Linked DNA regions of Homo sapiens: regions 2 and 3 are each linked to region 1. The links come from fine-mapping of genetic effects on gene expression. A gene starts in region 1. Each other region holds a variant in brackets. All regions are shown on one strand. Distances are from middle to middle.

Region 1 (8,177 bases):
CTGATTTGCCCAGAACAAAGGCCTACCCATCCGCTGGCCTTGGAAATAGCCAGAGAGCAGCTCCTTCTTCCTAGATTACCCTATTCTTTGCGAAACGGCCCCATCCCAAAACCAGGGAAGCCCTCGGGAGGCCAGTGGGCTGACTTCTTCCTTTGCCCAGAAGTGCACCCGCTGGGCGCGGTGTGCCAGCCCTGGGCTGCCCAATGGGCGCCGGACAGTAGGTGCCTTCTGGCTCTGTCCTGGGCGCTTCCTGCCCAACTCCAGGCACAAAGACCCCAAACTGTCCCTGACAATTCGTCTGGGACAAAGCTATTCCATCAGCCTGAGATCACTGGGGAGCACCCACCCACCCCTGCTGCTGCTTTCCAGAAAGTCTCATCCTCCCAGGGACTTCAGGGAAGCTTGGAGGTGAAAGGAGGTGTTTCAGTAAAGCTCAAATTTCCATGGTTCCGAAAAGGTTTCTCCCCCTAGCCATGGAGTTTCTCCCGTTTTTGCTGGATAAAAAGCAAGCACAAGCCTCTTGGGAATGGGTCTTTGGACAGGAAGGAGGACAGGGATTCCGGAGATTGGAGTGAGGTAGAACCAAAAGTTTCGGCACCCCGTAGGCCTCTCAGCAATTGCTCTGGGCACTGCAACTAGGGGGCTGAGATTGTCATTGGCTCAGGCTGGCTATTAAATCCTCATCCAGACACCTCCCAAGTATTCTGTTCTGTGGCAAAGACTATCGGGGAATGGGCCAGGCAGGGAAGGGGCTAAGGAGTGTGAGGAGACCCTCATTCAGCATGTAACCCAGCTACTGCTGCTACCAAGAGGTTCTGGCCCAGATGTGCTGGAACCAGTTTTCTACATACATGGGGGAGGAGGAGAATGAGGGGCATATTGACACACACCCATACATCGGGTAACGGTGCTCCAGGTTTTCAGTGCTTCCTCTGTAATGACTTTTCATATGGCACACAGTATGTTATCCACGGTGGCAGGCCCCATGTCTGTTCTGTTCTCTCTGTGCTGCTTAGTGTTGCCTGGAGGCTCCTGGCAGGTCTGATTCATGGGCTTAGGGCCCAGGGGCTGCAAAGAGGGCAGCACTTGGAGGAACAGTGAGTCTGAAGCTCCAGAAAAATCTGCTTTCACTGAACATAGGCGGGACCCAGTCCTGGGGGAAGTTTAATCTTAAAGCTTCATGGGTCAGAGGAGTGGCACATTCATGGTGAAGGCTGTGGCTGAGGTTGCAGAGATTGTATGCTTTTTCAGGGTTAGTGTTCTTAGACCCACCCCATCCCAGAACCAGCAGGAACTTGAGAGATTACCCAGGCTTCAATCTAATAGTGGAAGAGAATGAAGAGCAGACTGGGGACTGGCCCAGGGTCTCATACCAGGAAGTGACTGCCTGGTCTCACTCACCCACACCAGACCAGGGTGCTCCTCTGCAGCCCCAGCCTAAGCACGCTAAGATGTAAGATGGCCATTGCCAGGGCTGGGACCAGCCAGCCAGGTGAATCCTTTTAACCACGTAGCTGAAGGAGACGTGCTGAAAAGAGTACGTTGCACTTTTGTTGGAGGTCAGCAAATTGGGCTTTGAACCTCATCACAGTCTGCGGTAAATTCTTCTCCATGTCTCCCAGGGTCCTTAGATCCAACTCTGGGGCAGCCCCTGTGCAGCAGTGCATAGGACTCTGGATAGGGTGGCCTGGACACAGCAGACCTCCTCCCAGCCCACAGATACAGACTCTAAAGATGCCACCTGGATTTCTGCAGAAAGCTTCCCCTTTCTGCACCCGCACTGGCTTGGGACCTACTTTGTCAGCCCTGTGGCCTCATTCAACATGCCAGGGTAGGCCCCTGGAAGCTAAAGTCTTAAGAGGAGTCCCAGGGTTCCATTCTCTCATGCCTACAACACTCCCAAAGGACTTCCGGAATGCTGCAGCACAGGGAAAATTTTTGAAATCTTGCAGAGAAGGAAATAAACACAAAGGCATAAATATATGCCTTACCATAGACACCAAGCAAAACCAAAAGTTGAACCCAGGGCTCTAGACTCCCATTCCGCGCTCCTAGCACAAACTCCATAGAAAGCATAAAAGGGTGGGAAAGAAGGAACTGGCCTAGACTCGGGTTCCATAGCCCTAGACTGGCTGAGGGCAGAGCCCAGGATTTGTGCTGGCTTGGGTCAGGCACTGAGTATGGCCCTAGGAGCTCCTGGCCTGCAGCAGCTGAGGGGGGAAGAGGAGGAAACTGAAGGAAGTGGAAAGGACATGTCCGGGAAGGAGCTAAGCCCCGGGCTTTTCAAAACGTAGAGCAAGAACACACCCATCCTCAGTTCTCCCACCTTTGTGCGAGCCCTTCTCCCACAGGACCAGCACCACATGTTTCCATTGGCACCCTGACAAAGAAGCAAAAAACAGGACCCCCTTTTAAAGCACCTCATCCCGGAGCTCAGCGAGCCGGTTCCCAGGCTGGAGTGGCCAGGAGCCGAGCCGATCCCCAGCGGCGAAGCGGGAGGACTGGGAATCTTGCCTCCGTTCTCCTCCCCGACCACCCACCGGGGAAGCCCCACCACCGTCCTAGAGTCCCTGCCGTCGCCCCTCTCCCCCGCCCCGGTGGGCAGACTGCGGGTCTGCGCCGTCCGGGGTTCTGCGTCGCAGCTGCCGGCCGGAGTCAGCTTCCATAGAGGCCACACGGAACTGCCTGGCGCTCCTCGGGCTGTGGGACCCGTGGGGTTAAGTCTGAGTCCCCGCCCGGCGAGGAGCAGAGAGCGCAGAGTTGGGGCGGTACAGGCCGCCAGGCAGCCGGCGGGGCTAGGAGAGGGAGGAAAGGCGGGATCCTCCGGGAAGTCGATTCTCCGGCGTCCGCCTGCGGCCACTGCCAAATCTTCCCCATTTCTTTCGTCTACTCCCTCCCCTTTTCCCTCGAGGACCGCTGAGTCCAGAGTTTCTAGGATGGGGGTGGGGCGCTGTCAGCAGAAAAAGCCAAGTCTTTGGGCGGCACCCGAGCACGTCCAAACTCTCCCATCCCACTGGCCTGCGCCGGGGTAGAATGTGCCCGGTGAACAGAGAGCCTGGGAGGGACGCGGTGACCTGGGGAGAAGGGGAACCCTGTAGGGTCTGGGCGAGGCTGCAGAGCCCTCTCCTAGCCAAAGCTGCCCAAACTTTCTTCCCCTGGAGTCTCCTTCCACCCCTCTCCCTCCCCTTCCTCCTGGACACCCCCTTAAACGGTCTCCGCCTTCCCTTCTCTCCTCTTCTCTCCCCACCTCGATCCACCCCTTTTCGTCTTCGCCCGCTCCCCCCGCTCTCCTGTCCTCCTCCTCCCTCCCTCTTTGGGCATCCGCCCCGTCAATCTCCGCCGCCGCCGGCCCCAACCCGGCCCCTCTCCGCCTCCCAGGCTCTCAGAGCGCCCCAGGCTCCAGTAGAGCCGCCCTCAGTTCTGCGCGGAGCGGGGCGATCTGTCAGCGGAGCCGGCCGGGGGGAGCCGCCCGGCCCGCCGAGGCTCGGGTTACCAGTGACTGACAGCGTCTCCATGGCGAATAATTTGACTCCGACTATTGTCTGGCGCTGGCAGGCCCCGGGTCAGATAACCGGACCAATCAGGGCGCGGGCCGCCGCGCCTCATGCCCGCTTAGAATAATATTATTAAGAAAGCTGAGAGCCAGCTAGACGGGAGGGAGAACGAGTGAGAAGCGAGCGAGGGAACGGCGGGCGGGCGCGGAGCATGCGGAGCGGCGCCCCGGGCGGCCCCCGGGCTTGGGCGAGGGCTTGGGCCAGGCGCGCGGGCCGTTGGGGTTCGGAGCTTCGTGGGACCCGCGGCCGGCGCGGGGACGTACGGCAGTGACTCGGGGCTCACCGGGGGCCAGTGCCGGGCCAGGGGGCCAGCCCCGCCCGCGTCTCGGCCCGGACGGCCCGGCGAGGAAGCTCCCATGCGGGACCGCGCGGCCCGGTGAGGGCGCGCGCGGGCGGGCGGGGACGCAGCCGGCACCATGTCCATGCTGCCCACCTTCGGCTTCACGCAGGAGCAAGTGGCGTGCGTGTGCGAGGTGCTGCAGCAGGGCGGCAACATCGAGCGGCTGGGCCGCTTCCTGTGGTCGCTGCCCGCCTGCGAGCACCTTCACAAGAATGAAAGCGTGCTCAAGGCCAAGGCCGTGGTGGCCTTCCACCGCGGCAACTTCCGCGAGCTCTACAAGATCCTGGAGAGCCACCAGTTCTCGCCGCACAACCACGCCAAGCTGCAGCAGCTGTGGCTCAAGGCACACTACATCGAGGCGGAGAAGCTGCGCGGCCGACCCCTGGGCGCCGTGGGCAAATACCGCGTGCGCCGCAAATTCCCGCTGCCGCGCTCCATCTGGGACGGCGAGGAGACCAGCTACTGCTTCAAGGAAAAGAGTCGCAGCGTGCTGCGCGAGTGGTACGCGCACAACCCCTACCCTTCACCCCGCGAGAAGCGTGAGCTGGCGGAGGCCACGGGCCTCACCACCACACAGGTCAGCAACTGGTTCAAGAACCGGCGGCAGCGCGACCGGGCGGCCGAGGCCAAGGAAAGGTACGAGTAAGTAGACCTTCTTCGGCGCCAGCTCCCCGGGGCCCAAGGGAGGGGTTCGCAGGGCTTCTGCCGGTCCCCCGGAGAGGCCTAAACTGGGCCCCCAGGCCCGGCCACAGCCCAGCGGCAGCCCGGCCTGACTTGGACGATGCTTAGGCCTTTCTATGCCGGAGACCCGGCGAGCAGGGATTTGTCTAAAGCGGGCAGAGCAATTCAGGAAGTTGTCAACTAACTACTCGGTCGCTAGAGGAAAAGGGTGGAGAAGCAGAGAGCTTCGGGGCAGCGCAGAACTGTGGGCCTGTATCCCCTGTGAGGCAGGCACAGTAGGTCTGGTCATCCTCAGGACAGAGGGGTTTGAGCCCAGATGAAAGGGGATTTGCAGATTTCTTGCTGGTGGTGCTTCCCGGCATTTCCCCCCAGCCTTAGCTCCAGGCCAAAGTGTGATGGGGTCGGGACTGGGGCTGGAACTTCCCTAGAATGACCTGGATGGGGAAAAGCCAGGCCATGAATTTTCGTTGTCACATGGAGTTGAGAGCGGGTCCTTTATCTCCTTAGAAAGGATCCAGAGGTGAAAGGGAGGAAGTGTCAGTTCTGGGAGAGAAGAGACGCATGCCCTGTTTTCTGCCTTGCTAGAGATAGCCGCCCTTCCCTGGCACTCCAGGCCCTTGATGCCTCTCTCCTTAGGCCCTACCTCTGATGGGTAGGTCGGAATGTCTGCGGTGAGCTGAGAGGCACAGAGGGGCTGGGAGTTGGATGTCCTCAGGTAAACCAGGACTTCCTGAACCAGCCTAAAGGTTGATCATTAGGCCCTTGCCACTGCCTGCCCTATAACCCCTCAGGACCTCAAACCTGGAGAGAAACTTATTATGGGAACAGAATCCAGCCCGGGGTAAGAGCAAAACAGGACACCTGGGGTTGGTGATATGGGGTGTGTTCCACCCTGAGTTTGAATGATCAGGGTCAGAGGTGAGGGTGCTGAACCAGAAACATCTTAGGGGGAGTGCTGCAGGCTCAGATACTTCCAGGTATCTGAGACCCTGAGGTTGGAGTTTCCACAGTGGTGAGGTCTCAGCTGCCAGCCCTGTGGGAAGCTCCCTCCCAGGAAAGCAGAAAGAAAAACCCTCCCGAAGCTGGTGACAAGAGATCCTACCCAGGATTTTAAATATCCAAATCTGGGGAGGAGCTGTCAGTCAAAGGCATAGAAGGAGGTGGGTTCTCTCTGCTGGGTCCCCCTCCACCCAAACCGGCATGTGATCAGACTCCTGAAAACCTGGGTTCTCAGACCAGGCCCCAGATGAGAGCTGCAGATTCCCGGAGTGGCTGGTTACAATGGAAAAGCCTCGGCCTTCTCCCAGGGGCTGCCCTTTATCCCCCAAGCTTCTGGTCTCCGAGCTGACGTTTTCACTGTACCACCACGGAAAGGGAGTCCTCCATCCTTGGACCCTTGTCTCTAGGCCCAGCAAGGAGAGCCCTCACAGGGCTGCCCAGTTTGGAGCTACAGGGAAAGGACGCTTAGCCCCAGGAGCCTGTCTCCCAGCCAGGGGTCTCCCTCGGGCAGAAAAAGCAAAGGGAAATGAAGTCTTGTGAGAGGCCCTAAATCCCTTGACCTGGGATCCAGGGTTCCTTAACCTGCTAGCCCCACATCTACCCAGCAAACCTGGCTTGTGGAGCCTAGAGTGATCTGAAAATCCAGGCATCGTCTCTTCCTCCCGGCTCACCCCACAACTTCAGGGAACCCTGTTCTCCTGCACCTCTGTTCCTGAAAAGAAATATTGGGGAAGGGGGGAAAGAGGAAATATAGAAAAGATATTGATGAGATTGACAGCATGAGAGGTGGGGACGATAAGGGCAGAGGGGCAAGAGAAATTGGGTGTTGAGAGATGGAGAGAACGGGCAGAAAGGAGAACCCAGACCAGGTCGAGGAAATGGTAGAAACCGAAAACACCCGCAGGCCACAAGCCCGGGATCTGTCTCCCGAGGCTGGTGGCTGGCTCTGACTGTGACTGAGATGGCGCTGGGTGGTCTCGATGTCCCTGCTGACCCCGCTGCTTTGCTCCCGCACTTGCAGGGAGAACAACGAGAACTCCAATTCTAACAGCCACAACCCGCTGAATGGCAGCGGCAAGTCGGTGTTAGGCAGCTCGGAGGATGAGAAGACTCCATCGGGGACGCCAGACCACTCATCATCCAGCCCCGCACTGCTCCTCAGCCCGCCGCCCCCTGGGCTGCCGTCCCTGCACAGCCTGGGCCACCCTCCGGGCCCCAGCGCAGTGCCAGTGCCGGTGCCAGGCGGAGGTGGAGCGGACCCACTGCAACACCACCATGGCCTGCAGGACTCCATCCTCAACCCCATGTCAGCCAACCTCGTGGACCTGGGCTCCTAGAACCCATTTGCCTTGATGAGCTTGCCTTTTGTGACTTGACACTGGGGACGTGGAGTGGCGGTGTCCAGGGGCGCCCCGCCCCTGCGGCCCCACCAGGTACTGAAAGACCCGCAGGCTGAGCGGGTAGAACAGCCGGGTAGGGCAGATAGCTGTCTATGTTGGTTCTTGTTTGGGATTTATTTTCAACAAGTTACTTTTAGGATCCTTTTGGGGCTGGAGACTGAGTCTTGAACCACAGAAGGGAATAAATTATACACCACTGTCATTCTCTCTCTCCCTCTGTCTCTTCCTTTTACCCTCTCTTGTCTTGCCTTTTCCCCCTTTCCTCTTCCTTTCCCTTCCTTCTCTTTTCTTTTTTCTGCTTTCTGTCTTTCTCCCTCTCCTTGTATTGCTTTCCTTCTAGATTTCTAGCTTGCCACCGTTCATTCTCTCCTTCTGTCTCTCCCTTTCTCTCTCCTTCTCTGTTTCTCCTCTCTTCTCTCCTGCCAGTCTCTTGTACTCTGTGTCCTGGTCCCTCCGTATGTACCCCTGTCTTTCTCCTCCTGACTGGTGGTCTATCTGCCCCTACCTCTGGCCCTCGCTTTACCGGAGTAGGGGGTGGGAGAGGGAAGAGGAGAGAAAATACAGGGACTTTGAACCTAGGCCATCTCCTGAGGCCTTTTCCCTCGCCCATGTGGGTCAGTGGGAGCTGCAGGTGTCAGCTTTTCGTCTAGTAACTTAAGTGAGAGAGAAAGGGCAGCGCCACAGAAGCCCCTAAACGCCGCCTCGTCATACGCCCCTCCTCCTTCTCTCTTGGCGAGGCCCCGCCACACCGCGCTCTTCCTCCCGGGACTGTGACTACAGCGCTCCCGGCTGAGCGCGCCCCCCGAGCCGCCGACTTGCCGTCTCCCCGTAATGCCCTCATGTGAATGTTCTTCGGGAAATATTTCTGCTTTTATTTTATAATAAAATTAGAAATCATAAATATATAAATGGTTATATGCCACAAGGCCCGCGGGCCGGGAGTGCAGCTGTGTCTGATTTCCCTACCAAGACTCGACACCCCGGGTGGGCCGTTCTGGTTGGCGATGCTCTCTGGTGAGTCCCGAAACAGCCAGACGCCTTCCTATACACACGACTTGTGTCAGTCGCTAGGTGAAGGCACTGAAATTCCTGAAACAGCTCCCTCCCTTTTCCTGGCTGGGAAAACTCGCTGCAGAAGCGGGGAGGGGCAGCCTGCTGCCCTCCCCACACCAGCGACGCGCACAGCCCTTGCCAGCCTCTTTC
Region 2 (8,177 bases), 220 kb before region 1:
TTAATTTCCCTCCAGCATCTTGATTGTCACTCTTAAATGGTTCACTGTGTCTTAGCATAGCTGAAGCATTTGCCAAACTGTACAACAAGAAAAAAAAATGGTTCCTGGAATTTTGGTCCTTTAATCACTGCTCCAGACTGGTTCTGGGAACTAAGAGGCACCATCTGCAAAAGGCTTTTGGAGGAAATAGGGTGGGAAGAGGTGTGGGTGGAGTTGTCAGGGAGAAGAATATGTCCCTAGATCCATTAGAGCAGTCTGATCTGCCGTCCCTCTAAGCTGTGCAGCCACTTTGAGGAGAAAACCATTTTGTGGTTGTCTTCAGCAAGCCTAGATATTTTAACTTCATTTCCAGGCTGGTCCTTGCCACTCTTTCCTTGATTTATTTTCTGTTTTTTGGCTGTTGTAACAGGAAAATCTGTTCCCTTGCCAAACAAACAGCACTGAAAAAGATAGGCCAGGAGAAAGTTCCCACTTAGAGCCTCACCTCTAGGCTTCTGGAGGATAAGCTGCTCTTCCACTCCTTGACCCTGGCTTGGTCCTTGCATGCCTGGGGGCAGACGGGAAGGAAGACAGGCCTTCCTGTCAGAGACGTGGAGCAGGGTCAAGTTCCACCTTCTCTGTAAAGTCTGCCCTGGCCACTCAGTCCTCTGACCCTTTGAACTCCTGCTTCACTCACTATTCTACCCATTTTTACATTGAATGCTAGACTTGGGTGAATTTTACAAATCATCATTTTTCCAATATGGAATTATAATTTTTTCCAGCTGTAAACTCCTTAAACAGCAAGGACCATACTCTGGCTTCTTTTCTGTTTACGGGAGTCCTTAGCATGAACCTGGACTCATGGTAGAAGTTTAGCAATTACTTGAGTTGACCTAAATTCAAGTCATTGCTCGGCCACTAGCAGTATAATAGCATGAACATTTCCGAGGTTAGGTAAAGAATGCTGGGAGGTGATCAGACCCCCAGCTCCCTAGATGTCCTGCAATGATATCATAGGGAATTATGCCAGTCCCCAGAATGTCACCTCCAAAACTCCCTGCAGGGCCCTGGTATTAGGGAATTGTCCCACTCCCAGAGGAAAAAAAGAGTTGTCTAACCTACTTTATGTCAGTACACTTACAGAACCTTTCACTGTGCTTGGCCATGGTGGCTAGTATTTCTTCCCCAGTTCCTCGGCTCCTCCCTATCTTCAAGTGAAGCTTCAACTTTTTATTTGCTCTCTTGTCACACTCTCATCGCTCTCTCCTATGTCTTCTCTGGATTTTGGAGAAAGCAAATCCTAGCAAGCTTTGTCAAGTATTATCTTCTTGTTCCTTCAAGGAATTCTTTTACAGCTTCCTTTCCCTAAAAAGTCCTTCCTGTCTGGGTAGAGAAGATAGTTTTCCTTTTCTTCTTGTGCAAATTATTCTACTGTGTTCAAAGCAACAAATACTTAGTTGATGATGCATGTGTTCTTTTTTATATAAAGGTATTAATTTATTTAATTTCACTTTAAGTTTAGGTTTTGACCTTTATCTGGGTTCTCTGCTTAAGTGTATGTTTCCAATATCAGGCTAAATGGGGGTAATCCTCTTGGAATGGACTCTGTATTAGTACATTTTCATGCTGCTGATAAAGACATACCCTAAACTGGGTAATTTATAAAGAAAAAGAAGTTTAATGGACTCACAGTTTCACGTGGCTAGGGAGGCCTGACGATCACAGCAGAAGGTGAAAGGCACATCTTACATGGCGGCAGACAAGAGAGAATGAGAGCCAAGCAAAAGGGGTTTCCCCCTATAAAACCATCAGATCTTGTGAGACTTATTCACTACCATGAGAACAGTCTGTGGGAAGCTGCCTCCGTGATTCAGTTATCTCCCACGGGGTCCCTCCCACCACATGTGGGAATGATGGGAGCTACAATTCAAGATGAGATTTGGGTGGGGACACAGCCAAACTATATCAGTCTCTCTGGGACTAAGAGATCTGCAGTGTTGGTTTTCTGTGCCTCCATTTTCTCTTTTCCCCTGGGTGGCTCACCCTCCCTTGGTGGAGTCTCTGTGCTCCCCTGTTCTTCTCCCCTCTCTTATTCATATTGGCTTCTAAGAAAGGATCTCAGAGGAACTGCATCAAGACCCAAATACATTGCTTACTTCTTCAGTGGGCAGGAAATGGAGAGAGAGGCCAGGTCAAATCAACCATCTAAACCCCATAGAGCAATGCCAGAAACAGAATGGGAATAAGGCTAAGCCTGCTTATTGGCAAAGGGCCTCCCTGGTGTCCCAGAAGCTCATCTACACGGCCAAGCATTCTCTTAGTTGCCTTGCCAAGCTAAGCTGTCCTGACTTATTTAGAGTGGACGTGGCACTGGCCAAGTCTGGAGTATTTGAACTCGCAGTCTTGTAACAGAATCAATCAGAAAATTCTAGAGTTGAAGGCAAGGTTTGACATTGTCTAACATGGATATTTTACTTTGCTGATGAGGAAACTGCAGTCCCAATAGAAATGATGAATCGTCCTTCCATTTGTTAGGGCGGAGCTGGGCCTAGAGCCCTGGTTTCTTGATTTTCACTCCAAAGCTTGCCCACTACCCTTTTTTCCCCGGTTTTTATGGCTATACTTGTTTGTTTATTTTTTAATATGAACTTTACAATCAGCTGTTCTAGTTCCATGAAAAAGGTCCTATAGGTGTCTTTATTGCAATCATATTAGATTTACATTATTTATAAAATAACTGAATAGAAAATTGAAATTTTCATGATGTGGAATCTCCATATCTAACAATATAATATACCTTTTATTCTTTTCAAGCTCCTTTTGCGTCCCCAGGAGTATTTTAAAGTTTCCTTCACATATTTCTTGAAATTTTTAAGTTATTTTCATGTATTTTATACTATTTTTGCTATTGAAAATAGGGCCTTTTCTTCTACTATATCTTCTGTTACATATTTATTTCTATAAAGGCTATTGTTTACTGTATATTAATTTAATAACCGGATTTATTACCGAATTCTCTTGTTTTCAACAGTTTTTCAATAGGTTCTCTTGGGTTTTCAGGATATACAGTCATGTCATCTACAAATCATGATATTTTTGCCTCTGCTTCTCATATCAAATACAAAAGTTATTCAGCATGCCATCAAAATTAAAAAGTTTTATGCTTCAAAGGATACAATCAAGAAAGTAAAAAGACAACACACAGAATGGGAGAAAATTTTTGCAAATCATCTACCTAATAAGGGACTTGTATCTAAAATATACAAAGAACTCTTACAACTCAATAATAAAAACACAAATAACCCAATCAAAAAGTGAGAACAGGGCCCAGTGTGGTGACTCATACCTGTAATCCAAGCACTTTGGAAGCCAAGGCAGGAGGATCACTTGAACTCAAGAATTTGAGACCAGCCTGGGCACCATGGTGAGACCTCATCTCTACTAAAAGTTAAAAAAAATAAAATTAGCCAGGCATGGTGGCATGTGCCTGTGGTTCAAGCTACTTGGGAGGCTAAGGCAGGAGGATCACTTGAGCCCCAGAGGTTGAGGCTGCAGTGTGCCATGTTCACACCACTGCACTCCAGCCTGGGTGACAGAGCAAGACCCTGTCTCAAAAGAAAAAAAAAAAAAGCAAAGGATTTGAATAGACATTTCTCTGATGAGGATATACAAATGACCAATAAGCATATAAAAAGATGTTCAACATCATTAGCCATCAGGGAAATGAGATACTATTTCATACTTGCTAGAATAGCTATAATCAAAAACCCAGCTAATAAAAGTGTCGGCAAAGATGTAGAGAAATGAAGCCCTCATATGCTGCCAGTGGAATTTAAAATGGTACAGCTGGTTTGGAAAACATTCTACCAATTCCTCAAATGGTTAAACATAGAGCTACCACATGACCCAACAATTCCACTCCTTGGCATCAACCCAAGAGAAATGAAAACATACATCCACACAAAACTTCTACATTAATGTCCATAGCAGCATTATTTATAATAGTCAAAAAGTGGAGACAATCCAAATGTCCACCAACCTATTAACTGATAAATGAAATTGCTATATTTGTACGGTGGAATTGAAGTTAGCAATAAAAAGAAGCAAAGTACTGATACATGCTACAATACGGATGGACCTTGAAAACAATGCCAAGTGAATAAGCCAGTCACAAAGGACCACATATTATATAATTCCATTTAAATGAAATGCCCAGATGAGACAAATCTGTAGACAAAAAGTAGATTCATGTTTTCCAGGGGGTGGGGTGGGAGTGGGGAAATGGAGAGATTGATGGGTGATGGCTAAGGGGTATAAGGTTTTTGGGGGGTGGGTAGGAGAATATTCTAAAGTTGATTGTGGTGATTGCTGCACATCTCTGAATATACTAAAGGCACTGAATTTTACAGTTTAAATGGATAAATTTTATAGTATGCGAATTCTATCTTAATAAAGTTGTTTAAAATTATGCATGGGAAAACCGGGGACCAATTTTGGATCTAAAGTGCGTGTTGGGGGTGGATGCAGGGTAGTTGTTCTTGCATTAGCATAATAGGAGACGGGTGGAATAGAGGAGTCCCAGCTCAGGGAGAAGGGAACGATACTACCAGTCAGAAAATTCTCAAGCTGAAAGCAAAGTTAGACATCTTCTAGCCTGGATGCTTTACTTTGCTACTTATATTGAGAAGGAATCTGGGGCTGAGGCTGACTGACTAACAATGTCTGTCTGCCATTATGATAGCCAATATAGATTAAATAGGACCTTTGTGCCAGGCACTGGTTTAAATACTTTAT[A/G]TGCTTCATCCCATTTAATTCTCTTAAATATACAAGGTAGGTAATATCATCAGCTCTAGTTTATAAATGAGGAAAATTCAGCCACAGCTTTGCTCAAGATCCATGGGCTGCTCAGTGATAGAGTCAGGAGTCAGACCCCAGAAGCTGGACACCAGAGTCCTCTCTGTTAGGCAATAGTGACTCTACTGAGGGCATGGAAGCCTACGTTTGAAATCTATCATCTGGAAGTGGTCACCCTTCTTGGGATAAACTAGGCATTTATCCCAGCTGAGGGGAGTCACAGCTCATCCGCAGACATCTGGGTCACAGGCTGCAGGGTGCAGGGGGAACAGAATGCCGCAGAAATGTCTCGGGGGATGCCAGGTGGGGAGAGCAAGTCGTAGACATACAAAAATCCCCTCCAGCCCCCACAATCACAGCCTTTGTCATCTGACAGTTTTGCCTGAGCTTTTTCATGTGAGGAGTTTCTAAGGCCCTTCGGGGCCAGGCTAATGCCTTAGGTGGGGGCTACAAACTGAACATGAGTGAGGCAGTCTGTGTGTAGATGTGCTTGGCTTTTCTGGGTGACCTGCATGCAAAATGTCACGTGCCTCGGTGGGAACAGGCACTTCTCAGTTATTTAACCCTTTTCCTGTTTGCCCTGAGAATACTTGCCGGCAGCGCTTGCAGCTGCAACGTTTACCCCAAGATAACTTTGCCACAGAATATCTCGCTGTTATTATTGTTGTCGACTTTGGCAACAAAAGCCATCATTCTATTTGTAGCATTCTGTTTTTAGTAGTGGTATTTCCATTCACAATGTATAGCAATTCTCGATTGCTGAAAATGTCAAATCCTTGAAAACGTAGCATTCTTATGAGTGATGTTAATATCGTTCTTGGACAATTTTTGGCCAAAGATTCATTTGATGAATCTGAGTTTTCTGAAACAGATGATTCCAGGGTTAGTTGTGTTTAGAAATGACTCCAAGAACAGTTTTTATATTTCATTTTCGCATTGAAAATCAGTCTATTTGCTTCAGCCTCAAAGAGCATGTTTATGTAAAATTAAATGAGGCTTGCAGCGAGCTGCACTTTTTTTTTCTAAACAGAAAAAGTTAAGGGGCAAAGGAAACTCACTGCCCTGACACTGCTCACATAGGGGGTCAGCCAAGACTGGGCGAAACTAGTAACGCACCAGGGCCTGGCATCCCATGGAGTCACCCAGCCAGTCTCCCTGAGGTTCTCCTGGGGACACTCAACCATCAGCCAGCTGCCCCTAGCCTTGGGAGTCTCCTCAGTGGGGGTGTGGGAGGAGCTGCTCGCTTCTCGTCCCCTGTAGTGGAGATCTGGGCCTCTTTCCCCCTCAGCATAGAATGAGGCTTCACAGGCCTATGCTCCCTCCCGCCCCCAAAACCCAACAGGCTGTCCTGCCATGCTGTGGCGGCGGGGGGTTGGGGGGATGGCGAATGGGAGGTGTCTTGAGCACACAAGGCAGAGGCAGTGATATCAGTGGAGGAATGAGGCAGAAAGGTGTTGCTTGGATGTAAAACAGGGAAGAAAACACAAAACGAATACAGGGAGAAATGTGAGAAAAGATAAATGTGGAATTTGGCACCTGGCAGGCACAGGTAGGGTATGGGCCCCACGCCCTGGTTCGTCTCAGCTTGTTCGTAGCCTTCTCAGATCGTCCTCTACCTTCCTCTCTGAGTTTGCTCTCAGCATTACCTGGGTGTATGTGTCCCCTCTGCCGCTCACTACCCATGGGTCCTGAGGGAATCTGTTCCCTGAGCCTTGGCCGTCTTGCCTGTGAAGTGGGTGGCATGACAGGGGAGCTTCCTTCACAGGGTGGCTGTAAAGGTTACACGAGGCAGAGCCTGTAAGTCACTGAGCACAGTAGGGTCTTAACAGCAGCTCAGTAAGTGAGATCTATTTTATTATGATATTTTTAATATTTATGTATTTATTGAGATGGAGTTTGGCTCTTGTTGCCCAGGTTGGAGGGCAATGGCTCAATCTTGGGTCACCGCAACATCCGCCTCCCGGGTTCAAGCTATTCTCCTCTCTCAGCCTCCCAAGTAGCTGGGATTACAGGCATGTGCCACCACACCAGGCTAATTTTGTATTTTTTTAGTAGAGACGGGATTTCACCATGTTGGTCAGGCTGGTCTCCAACTCCCGACCTCAGGTGATCCGCCCACCTTGGCCTCCCAAAGTGTTGGGATTACAACTTTTGAGCCACTGTGCCCGGCCAAAATTTGTTTTTAATGTAGCACAGCATTTACCATTTCAACCATTTTTGAGTATACAATTCAGTGGCATTAAGTACATTCGTACTGTTGTACAACCATCACCACCATCCATTTCTAGACCTTTTTCATCATCCCAAACAGCAACTCTCTTTCAATTACTCCCCCATCCCTCCTTCTCCCCTGCACCTGATAACCTGTAATCTATTCTCTGTCTGTATAAATTGGTCCATTTTAGATATTTCATGTAAGTAGAATCATACAGTGTTGGTCCTTTGTGGCTGGGCATGTTTAACTTAGCCTTATAATATTTTAAAGCTTATAATGTTAAAAGCATATAAAGTTATAATGTTTTCAAGGTTCACCCATGTTGTAGCATGGATCAGAACTTCATTCCTTTTTAAGGCTGAATAATATTCCACTGAAAGTTTTGTTTAACCATTTGTCTGTTGATGGACATCTGGGTTGTTTGCACCTTTGGCTTGTTGTGTCTATTAGAGGCGTTATAGTCACTCATCTATGAAGAAGAAGTGTAGTCTGGGTTGGGGGGTCAGAGCACAGCCTCTGGAGCACACTGCCTGAGGCCTCGTCCTTTATCTTACCACCTGGGATGTTGGTACATGTCTTAACCTCTTTCTGCTACAGTTTCTCATCTGTGAAATGGGGATACGAGGCTTGGGCTCCTGTGAGGAGGAAATGAGCCAACACAGATAAAGTAGCTATAGTGGTTTCTGTCACCTGGTCAACATGCAGGAAGGTTAGCTGTCACTCTTGTGTTGGGAGTTTACATCTTTACTGAGACCTATCTGGGTGGACTGGAGTTTTCTAACTTGTAGGAACTGGTGGTCAAAGAGACAGAATTGAAAAACTGGAAAATGCTAGAGGTGAAAAAGACTTCAAAGATCACCTACTCAAACTTCCTCCTTTTACCAACAGGGAAACTGAGGCCCAGAGAAGAGGGGGCCAGAGTGACAGAGGCAGAACTGGAGGCAGGCACCTGCCCCCAAACTTTAGACCTCAGCTTCAGCTCCAAGCCTGGCTTCACCACCCCCATCCCCTCGCTGGGTTCGCTTCTCCAAAAATCACACCAAGTTGGGGGGTGAGGGTGGCTTCCCCGCTACCGTACCCAGGTTAGTAAAACTCCCAAGTTTTGGCAGGGGGAGGATTCCCAGGA
Region 3 (8,177 bases), 280 kb before region 1:
AAAAAAAATTAGCCAGGTGTGGTTGTGCACACCTGTAATCCCAGCTACTTGGGAGGCTGAAACATGAGACTTGCTTGAACCCAGGAAGTGGAGGTTGCAGTGAGCTGAGATCGTGCCACTGCATTCTAGCCTGGGTGATAGCACAAGACTCTGTCTAAAACAAAAACAAAAACAAAAACAAAAGAAAAAGAAAAAAAAGAAACAAACTGAGGACAGCGAAAGGAAAGCCACTATGTAGGTCCAGCCCATCTAGGTGGTAAGGAGAGCAGAAGAGTCAAGGGAGATAGAAGGGAGAGGAGAAATAATTCTAAAGCATGGAGTGCTTTGGTGGCAGGGGAGGTGAGTGGAAGGATAGGGTTCATTCCAAAATGGAGAAGCAGAGAAGCCAGGGGCCTGAAAAAGAGCGCAGAAGTGCTAGAATATAACAGTGATTATTTCAAAAGTCCGCTTAAAGCCAATCCTGCATCAAGACAGAGGGCTACCCTGTGTCCAGGACCCAGAACTCATAAGCTCCCTTTTGCCTATGTCATGGGAATAGACTGGCCTGAGAGTATACCAGCAAGCACCACAGGGCTTTGCCAGGGAGATTTGTTCTCATGAACTGATTGCTGGGACATGAAACTGTCACTAGGCCTCCCTGAGGCGGGTATGACAATATTCAGGCAGGCCCTTCTTGAAATATAATGTCAGGATAAGAAGGTAGTTTCAGCCGGGTTTGGTAGCTCATGCTTGTAATTCCAGCCCTTTGGGAGGCTGAGGCAGGAGGGTTGCTTCCTGGGCAACATAGTGAGATGCCATCTCTACAAAAAATTTAAAATTAACCTGGTGTGGTGGCAAGTGCCTGTATTCCCAGCTACTTGGGAGACTGAGGAGGGAGGGGAGGATCGCCTGAGCCCAGGAATTCAAGGTTACAGTAAGCTATCATGCCACTGCACTCCAGCCCGGGTGAAAAAAAAAAAAAGGTAGTTTAAATTCACACATCCAAAGTGATTCTTCTTAGTACAATTGCTGACCAAGGAGATTTCCAGTTGTACTTGAAGGTACATTGATCACCTGACCAGTGCTGAGGGTCTCTTAGCCAGAGGGACCAAGACCCCAGCAGCAGTTGCCTGTGCCCTTAGAAGAATCTTCAGAGGTAAGGATGCAGCAGTTCATTAACAAGAGGCAATGGAAAAGTGAGCTTCCACTTACGAAAATGCCATCTAGAGAAACACTTTCAGGTCTGTGCTGTGCCTATCCAAGCAGAAATTCTCTAGAGGACTGGAGAGTTTCCAGCTTTCCTCAAAATGGAATGGGTGATGACGGCTCTATGGGGGAGTTAGCGTTTCTTAAGGAAATTTTCTCTCAGGCATCTCTCTCTACGTGCTAGCAAGTTGCAGGGGAAAGCAGGTAATTCAGGGCACTAAATATAAGCCTGGGGATCAAATCCTTGCTCTGCCAATTTTATTTGAGGATTCTTGGCAAAATGACTTGAGCTTTCGGAGCCTTGGGCTCTTCATCTATAAAAAAGGGATGTATCAGATAGCTTTTGCTGAATAACAAATTTCTGAAAACATAGTGGCTTAAGATAACAAGCACTGAATATTTCTCATGATTATGTAAGTTGGCTGGGAAGTTCTTCAGGTGTGGGTAACCTCAGCTGGGGCTGGATGGTCAAGAACAGCCTCACTCCTATGCCTGTGGCCTCAGCTGGGATGGCTGGAGAGGTGGGCGCCTTGCTCCACATGGTCTCTCATCCCCGGGAAGCTAGCCTGTGCTTGTTCACAGAGTGGCAAAAGGGTTCAAAGCTGAGAGAGGGAAAGCCTTGATGCAAAAGCACTTTTCAAGCCCCTTACATTGTGTTTGCTAATGCCCCACTGGCCAAAGCAGGATGGTCAATACAGAATTGAGCGGATGGGGGAACAGACTCTACTTCTCGATGGGATGAGGTGCAAAATATTGTGGCTATTTTTTTTTAGTCTACCACAAAAAACAGCAACAAATCTACCCCAGTGGGTTATTGTGAGGCTCATATAAAATAATGCATGAAAATAAAGCTCTTGACATGGTCCTGGCACATAGTAGGTCTTCCGTGAACGTGAGTTTTCATTTCTTCTTTTTCTTCTTCTTGAGTAAGAGCACATCTTTATGAGAGGCATGATGGATCTGTTGACTCTAATTCCATTCTCTTTCAGAGCACATGGAAATTGAAGCCATGTGGGACTTAACAAGAGATCAAATAGTGCCTTAAACATCCCAGGGCAGCAGTCCTGTCCCCAGAGCCTGGGGCGGCCCCTGTGATGGAGCCTGTCTTTCCTGGTGCTCTGGGTCCCTCCCCTCCCAGCCTGCTGCAGGTCGGTCTTTTTCTCATTACAAATTGCTCATAAGCACACACATCCCCAGATGCCCGCATAAAAGCTGGTATTAAAGTTGTGTAATGGTGGTGTGAGCCTTGTTATTATTAGGGTAGCAGTAAGCTGTTCCCCAGAGCTTGGGGCTGTACTGGGCAAAGCTCTGGAAAAGCTGCACACTCTCTCCAGTGCAATCTGACCGCCCCCTCCCAGTGAGGCTGCAAAGAAGAGATACTGAGCTATGCAATTGTATGGTGAGTCAGTTATCAGGGGAGAAGAATTAGATTGTGAGGGTGGAAGCAGAGACCTCTGAGGAGAGAAACCCCTAGGGACAGAAGAGAAGCACTGGAGATCTTCAAAGGATTCTGCTGATGCATTTTCTCCAGGAAAAATTCCATAATATTTGGCACCTGCCAGAGAAATACTGCTCTGCATTTGATGGCATGTCATAGGGGACCAGGCTTCCTGCTCTTGTCAAGTCTTACCAACAACTCAGTGAGCTTGGCAGGAGCATCAGCCCCATTTTACAGATGTGGACTCTGGCGAGTCTTCACTCCTTTCCCAGGAATGCTCTCTCCTCTATTTAGTGGCCCCTCCTGTTCCTGGACCTTGGATCAGCTTATTCACTGATGATGACAGCGCTGATGAAACATTAATTCATGACCTCTGGAATACGCACTCTTTAACACATGTAAGTGTGTGTAGTGTGCGTGATTGAATATTAGATGAGAAATCAACCTTGGCCTCTTGCCACTGTAGCATCAAGGGTTCTCACAATGGCTGATGCAAATCTCATGATGAACACTGGGCTCAAGGGAAATGAGAGGCTACAAAGACCCGAGCCTGGAGGGTCAAATCACAAGCTAGGAAATGGGCAACTGCTTTTCAGAACACTGTTCAGAACCAGAATGGCAGAGGAGGCAAAAGATGAAAATTTTTTAAACCTTTCCTATATGGCAGAAACCGTGCTGAAGGCTTACATGGATTATTTCCTTTCATTACCACCAGCACCCCATTAAACATTAAACATTATCACCTGTGTTCAGTGCTCCCTTATATCTGGGACTCTTCTAGACACAGGATAATTTCTCTTTCCCACATCCTTGTTGGAGGCAAGACCATTTGAGAAACTTGACCAGTGACTGGTGAATGGGAGTGATGGACATCTTTTTTAGGCTGAAGCACTTAATAGTCTCCACGAGGCCCTCCAGTATCCTGGAAGCACATGGTAGACAGGGGTGACACATAGTTGAGACAGCCTGGATCTCTGAGCTTCCATGTAGAGGACAATAGCCTTGGGGAGATCCCTCAACCTCCAGCCAACTTTACTTGAATAAGAAATGCAACTTTGTTGTTGTAATCCACTGAGATTTCAGGGTTGTTTGTTATTGCAGCAAAACCTAGCATATTCTGCCTAGTGGATAGGCAGAATCATTATTTTATAGATGAGGAAATTAGGGCTCTGAATAGGTTAAAAACTTGCCAAGGGCACACAGAGCCTAAGTGGGAACACCAGGGTCTGAACCCACGTGTGGTTCCAGAGCCCAAGCTCTTAACCATGATATGATTAGACAAAAGTCATGGCCACTGGGAAGTCATTGAAGGACTTTTCAAACTGGAAGTAACCTGATGACCATAGGGTTTGCAGAAGCCTGCCCTGGCTTGTGTGTGAGGGGTGAGCTAGACTAAGGAGACAGAGCAACGCCCAGAGCAGTCAGTTCACCCAAGGTGTTGTCTTTCTCCCACATCTGCCACATGGAGGGGCAGACCTGTTACTCACCCTGCCTGGTGGTATTTGCATGTTTCAGAGGAAAGGACAGCAAGAGCTGCTTCGCCTTGGGAACAGGGAGGGCAGGAGGGGAAGGGGTAGCTGGTGTGGAGGCGGGGGAGATGCTGCCAGGGAGGGGGCAGGAAAATTCTCTACCCCTCTCCCGAATCACTGCAGCCCGCCCATGGCCCTCAGAGCTTACTCAATGCTGTCTTTCCCAGAGTGTTTCTCTTGGCAGAGACCTCCTCAGGGGCCCTACCTTATGATGAATGCCACACACCCAGGACAGAGTTTGGTAATTTCAATGGGTTTTTACCATCTAGTTCAGCCAGACGATTGAGATGTTTGTCTGTGGCAGGTTTGCCAAAGCTGGCCTTGGGTCACCTGGGGCTACAGACCATGCCCGTTCCCCCTCTCCAAGATTCTGATGCAGTCAGTTTGCCGTGGGGCCTTGGGCTCCCTGTGCTTAACAAGCCCTCCAGGGGACTTACACCCTCTCGCAGGTTTGGAAACAGTGACTCATGCAGTACCAAGTCAGTCTGACTGAGCTGTTT[C/T]GGGAGTGAGGTTATGGGATACTTTGGCATCCTGAACATAGCATGGAGCCCTTGTCCCCTGCAGCCAGAACAATTTTTCTGTCTATTGAAATTTCTTTACATTTTTTATGAAATTAAATTTGGAAAAGATTTATCCAGTTTTTAAAGTTTATTTTGTTTTTCAAGATGAAAACAAATGGTTTACTACATACCTGAACACTCCCTTTGTGAGCCCATGTGAGAATTTGCTTTAAGTCTCACTCCCAGGAATATCTGTGATTCTTGTGAGTGACGGTTTGCTTTTACCTTAGTGACACTGTGATTCTTGTAACTAATCATATATCCTCTCTGCTGTAGCAACTGGGAAGCCCAGAGCCAAATTTGCAGTTCCTCCTAGCAAAAATGTTCTGCAGCCACTGAAATTCATCTTATGTTTCTCCCCTCGTTTTTCAGTCATTTGCTATAATACCACCTTTTACAAAAAACGTTATTTGTATTTCTAAAAGCTTCACAAATCCTTTTTGGAATGAGGTGAAATGGACATGAATAAAGATAATTCTAGGGAAATAATTTCACAAAATTGCTGCCTCTAAGTTTCAGCTTGTAGGAACTACAGGACTTTGAGCAAAAGCCAGCCCTCCTCAAGTGATCCTGAAGTATCGACAGGGGAAATGGTGCTTCTGGGTTCCCGGAACAGAGGGAGGCAGGCTGAGAGGGTACCTGGCTATCCTGAGGCAGGGTGTGTTTTGTGATGCTGCCCTCTGGGCTGGGCAGTGTGAGTGGCCAGGGGCCATCTTCAGCATGGCAGAGTCCCCTCCTGCCCAGAAACAGCTTCCTTAGCACTGGAGGCATTCAACAGCCAGGGATTAATTCTTTTGGGTCTTGATAACTCTTCATTTTTCAGGGTCTCCACAAAAATCCAAATGTCTCTGGGCAGGGAGCAGGCCTCAGGTGTCTCAGGTAGCTCCAGCGGAATCCCCAGGAGGGATGGGAAGCAAACTTCCTGGGAAAATGAGTGAGCCAGGCTGTCCCAGTGGTTGAGTCATAAGGTTGGCAAAGGTGCGTGTGTGTCCTGGGTGGAGGAGGCAAAAACAGTGGCTTTTCCTAAGGCCCTGGGCCCCTATGGGCCTCCCTTCAGCCTAGGACTGGGATGTGGAAAGAGGAGAAGGAAGATGGAAAAAAGGACTACCTATAGCTTTGCCAAAGGCTGACCTGGCAGGGTCCTCAGGTGTTTCTGTGCACCCTCGAGAAAGATTGTACCTGCTGGGTTTTAACTCTGCCCTTAGCCCCGCTGCGGGCAGAGTGTGAGGAGGCCCTAGAGAGTGAAAACAGGGAACTATGGAGGGAAGTGTTTATAGTGAGACCTCAGAAGTGATGAAACCCCCCAATTACGGTTCCAGGCCTCGTTACCTCTCTCGGTGGTGCATTTGCGTGGTCTCTGGCCTCTTGGCCCAAAGGTCTCATGGCTTGAGTCCACAGGGACTCAAGCCCTATGGCCTAGTGGCTGTTCAGCCTCAGCGTTCCTCACAGGGCCAGCCCTGCCCTGGCCTTTCATGAGACACACGTGTGCATGCGTGTGTGTGAGTGCTAGTGAGGCCTGGTGGGCGCACAGAGGCCTGCCGACGTCTATTACATGGAGAAACATCTGTTTTCTGCAGAACATCCACAGTATCAGATGTTTTACTGCAAGGAACCCATTTTTTTAATAAAACGAAAATGAGACATGGAAATCAAGGTAACCACATTTTAAATGTTTATGGAAGATAAAGGTTTAACCACAAGTCTTTCATCAAATGGAGGACAGTAGAAAAAAGTTTAGGGAATGCCCTCTGGCTGTCCTCGCCTCTGCAGTGAAACCTTGAAGAGTCTCACCTCATCTAGTACCGGGGTCCTCCAGGCAGCTGGAAATAGTTAGCAGTGTGTCTAAATATTGTCGTGCAGCAGTCCCACCATCAGCCTGTCAGGCCACGACTGTTGTGGGGGAGAGAGATTTGTTCAACCGAAAAGCCCAGACTCAAGTGTGACCCACAAATGGTGCGTTGGGGCACAGAGCAGCCCTAGAGGGGAGGCCTCTGCTAGGAGAATGGGCCTCCTCTCTGATTCCTGAGGGTGTGAGCAGATGGAGGTGGGTGGGCCTGGGCAGGCTTGCCCCTTTTTTCCTGGTGTCCAGGGACCAGGGGCCCTGGGTTAGGGTGAGAGGCCCCTCCAACTCCTCCCACGAAAACAGGAGTGAGGTTTATGGCAGCTCTGTGGGGGACTTTGTCTCCTTAGATACCCACCATATGCGTCGTTGGTGAAAAGTCCTCAGGTGCCACCATCATTCCCATTCAACATCGTCACTGCTAGGGAAGGAAAGGCAGCATTTTCTCTGCAGTTACGTGGTCACCAGAATGGAAAATAACCTTCCTGCACATTTCAAGGATTCTTCCTCCCAAGACTGACGTGCACTGATATGTTATCTCATTTTCTCAGAGATTTCCATGTTATACTTGAGAAAACAGGGAGCCCAGAACCTCCAGACACAGTTCTGAGGAGGCTTCCTGGAGCACGAGCAGAGAGAAGGGCTGGGTCCTCTTCCTGGGGCTCACAGGGGGAAATGGAGACTTGTGATAGAGCCCCCCAGGGTGGCACTCCCTCACCTCTCCTCCACGGTCTGAAATCAGTCGCTCCACTTTGGACCTGAAGTAATTTTTCCATTTTAGAACAATCCCTCATTCCACAGCCCCATGCCAGGGACTTGTCTCTCTCACCATCAGCCGCCGCGTCCCCCAGAAACACACAAAGTGTAAGATGGAGCGAGGAATCAAGTTGAAGGATGTGACCCGCAGTTTATAGTGGGGCCCTCCAGACACCCGATCCCGTGTCTGAGCTCCATTACCACGGCTCTGGCCGCTGGCTGATTCGCCTTTCCTGAAAGGAGAGAGGTTCTCCAGGGAGAGGATGCCGGGGAGGAGGGAGCGGGGCGAGAGAGCTGTAAGCCTCGTGTGGAGGCTGGGTTCTGGGCGTGCTTTGGGTCTCCGTGGCTTCACCACTGTGCAGATCCCTCCTGGTGGTGGTGGTGGTGGTTGTCGGGGGAGGCGGGGGCAGGTTGTGTACTGTAGGAGTGAAATGAGATGGAGCCCACTGGGGGCTGTTTGGGCTTGGCAGTGAACTGGGTTTAGGGACCAGAGGTATCTTCTTCCCCGTCAGCCCTAACCCAAGCCATGTTCGTCTTGCTGATTTAGCAGGAACTAAAACGTAAAAGGGATTTCAACTGGGGCAGTGAAACCAAAGGTATTTCCTAGGCTCGTAAACCTCTTATGCTATCAAATAAACTGGAAGATTCTGCTTGGTGCACAAGCTCCATCGTTATTAGAGGTGCCATCGTCCAGCTGTTTGGCAAAGAGTTGCCCACAGAACAAGTTCTGTTTTCTTAGGCCTATGATGGAGGAACATTTGCGAAACCTTGAGACGTGCTATCTAGCCAGGGTCCTTTCGAAAAGTCCGTCCAGCCTGAGACTCTGATTGTGGGAATCCCAGAGTGCACGCGGCCAGCATGGAGTGGCT

Alleles and levels. Alleles are on the strand shown, and positions count from the first base shown. SD is a standard deviation of normalised expression in the study named. Not every link is listed here.
For the expression in aorta of the gene that starts at base 3,629 in region 1, C is the low allele of the variant in region 3 and T is the other (small effect, 0.30 SD a copy in GTEx).

Evidence for each region. PIP is the estimated chance that this variant, and not a neighbour inherited with it, causes the effect.
Region 2: its variant is fine-mapped to the expression of SIX2 in aorta (GTEx, PIP 0.97).
Region 3: its variant is fine-mapped to the expression of SIX2 in aorta (GTEx, PIP 0.91).

The regions. Positions count from the first base shown.
Region 1 is chr2:45,004,904-45,013,080 of GRCh38, reverse strand. It overlaps SIX2 (SIX homeobox 2), which reads left to right and starts at 3,629. Exons shown (of 2, transcript NM_016932.5): 1 at 3,629-4,530; 2 at 6,596-7,899. The coding sequence starts at 3,971. The coding sequence ends at 6,911. RefSeq lists enhancers at 1-293, 2,557-3,156, 4,161-4,934, 6,208-6,751, 6,752-7,295.
Region 2 is chr2:45,221,660-45,229,836 of GRCh38, reverse strand. All of the region lies in intron 1 of LINC01121 (long intergenic non-protein coding RNA 1121), which reads left to right. Among named protein-coding and RNA genes, the nearest start is that of LINC01121, 29 kb to the left of the region's middle. The variant A/G (reference allele first, on the strand shown) is at 4,777.
Region 3 is chr2:45,280,336-45,288,512 of GRCh38, reverse strand. No RefSeq gene overlaps it. Among named protein-coding and RNA genes, the nearest start is that of LINC01121, 29 kb to the right of the region's middle. The variant C/T (reference allele first, on the strand shown) is at 4,653.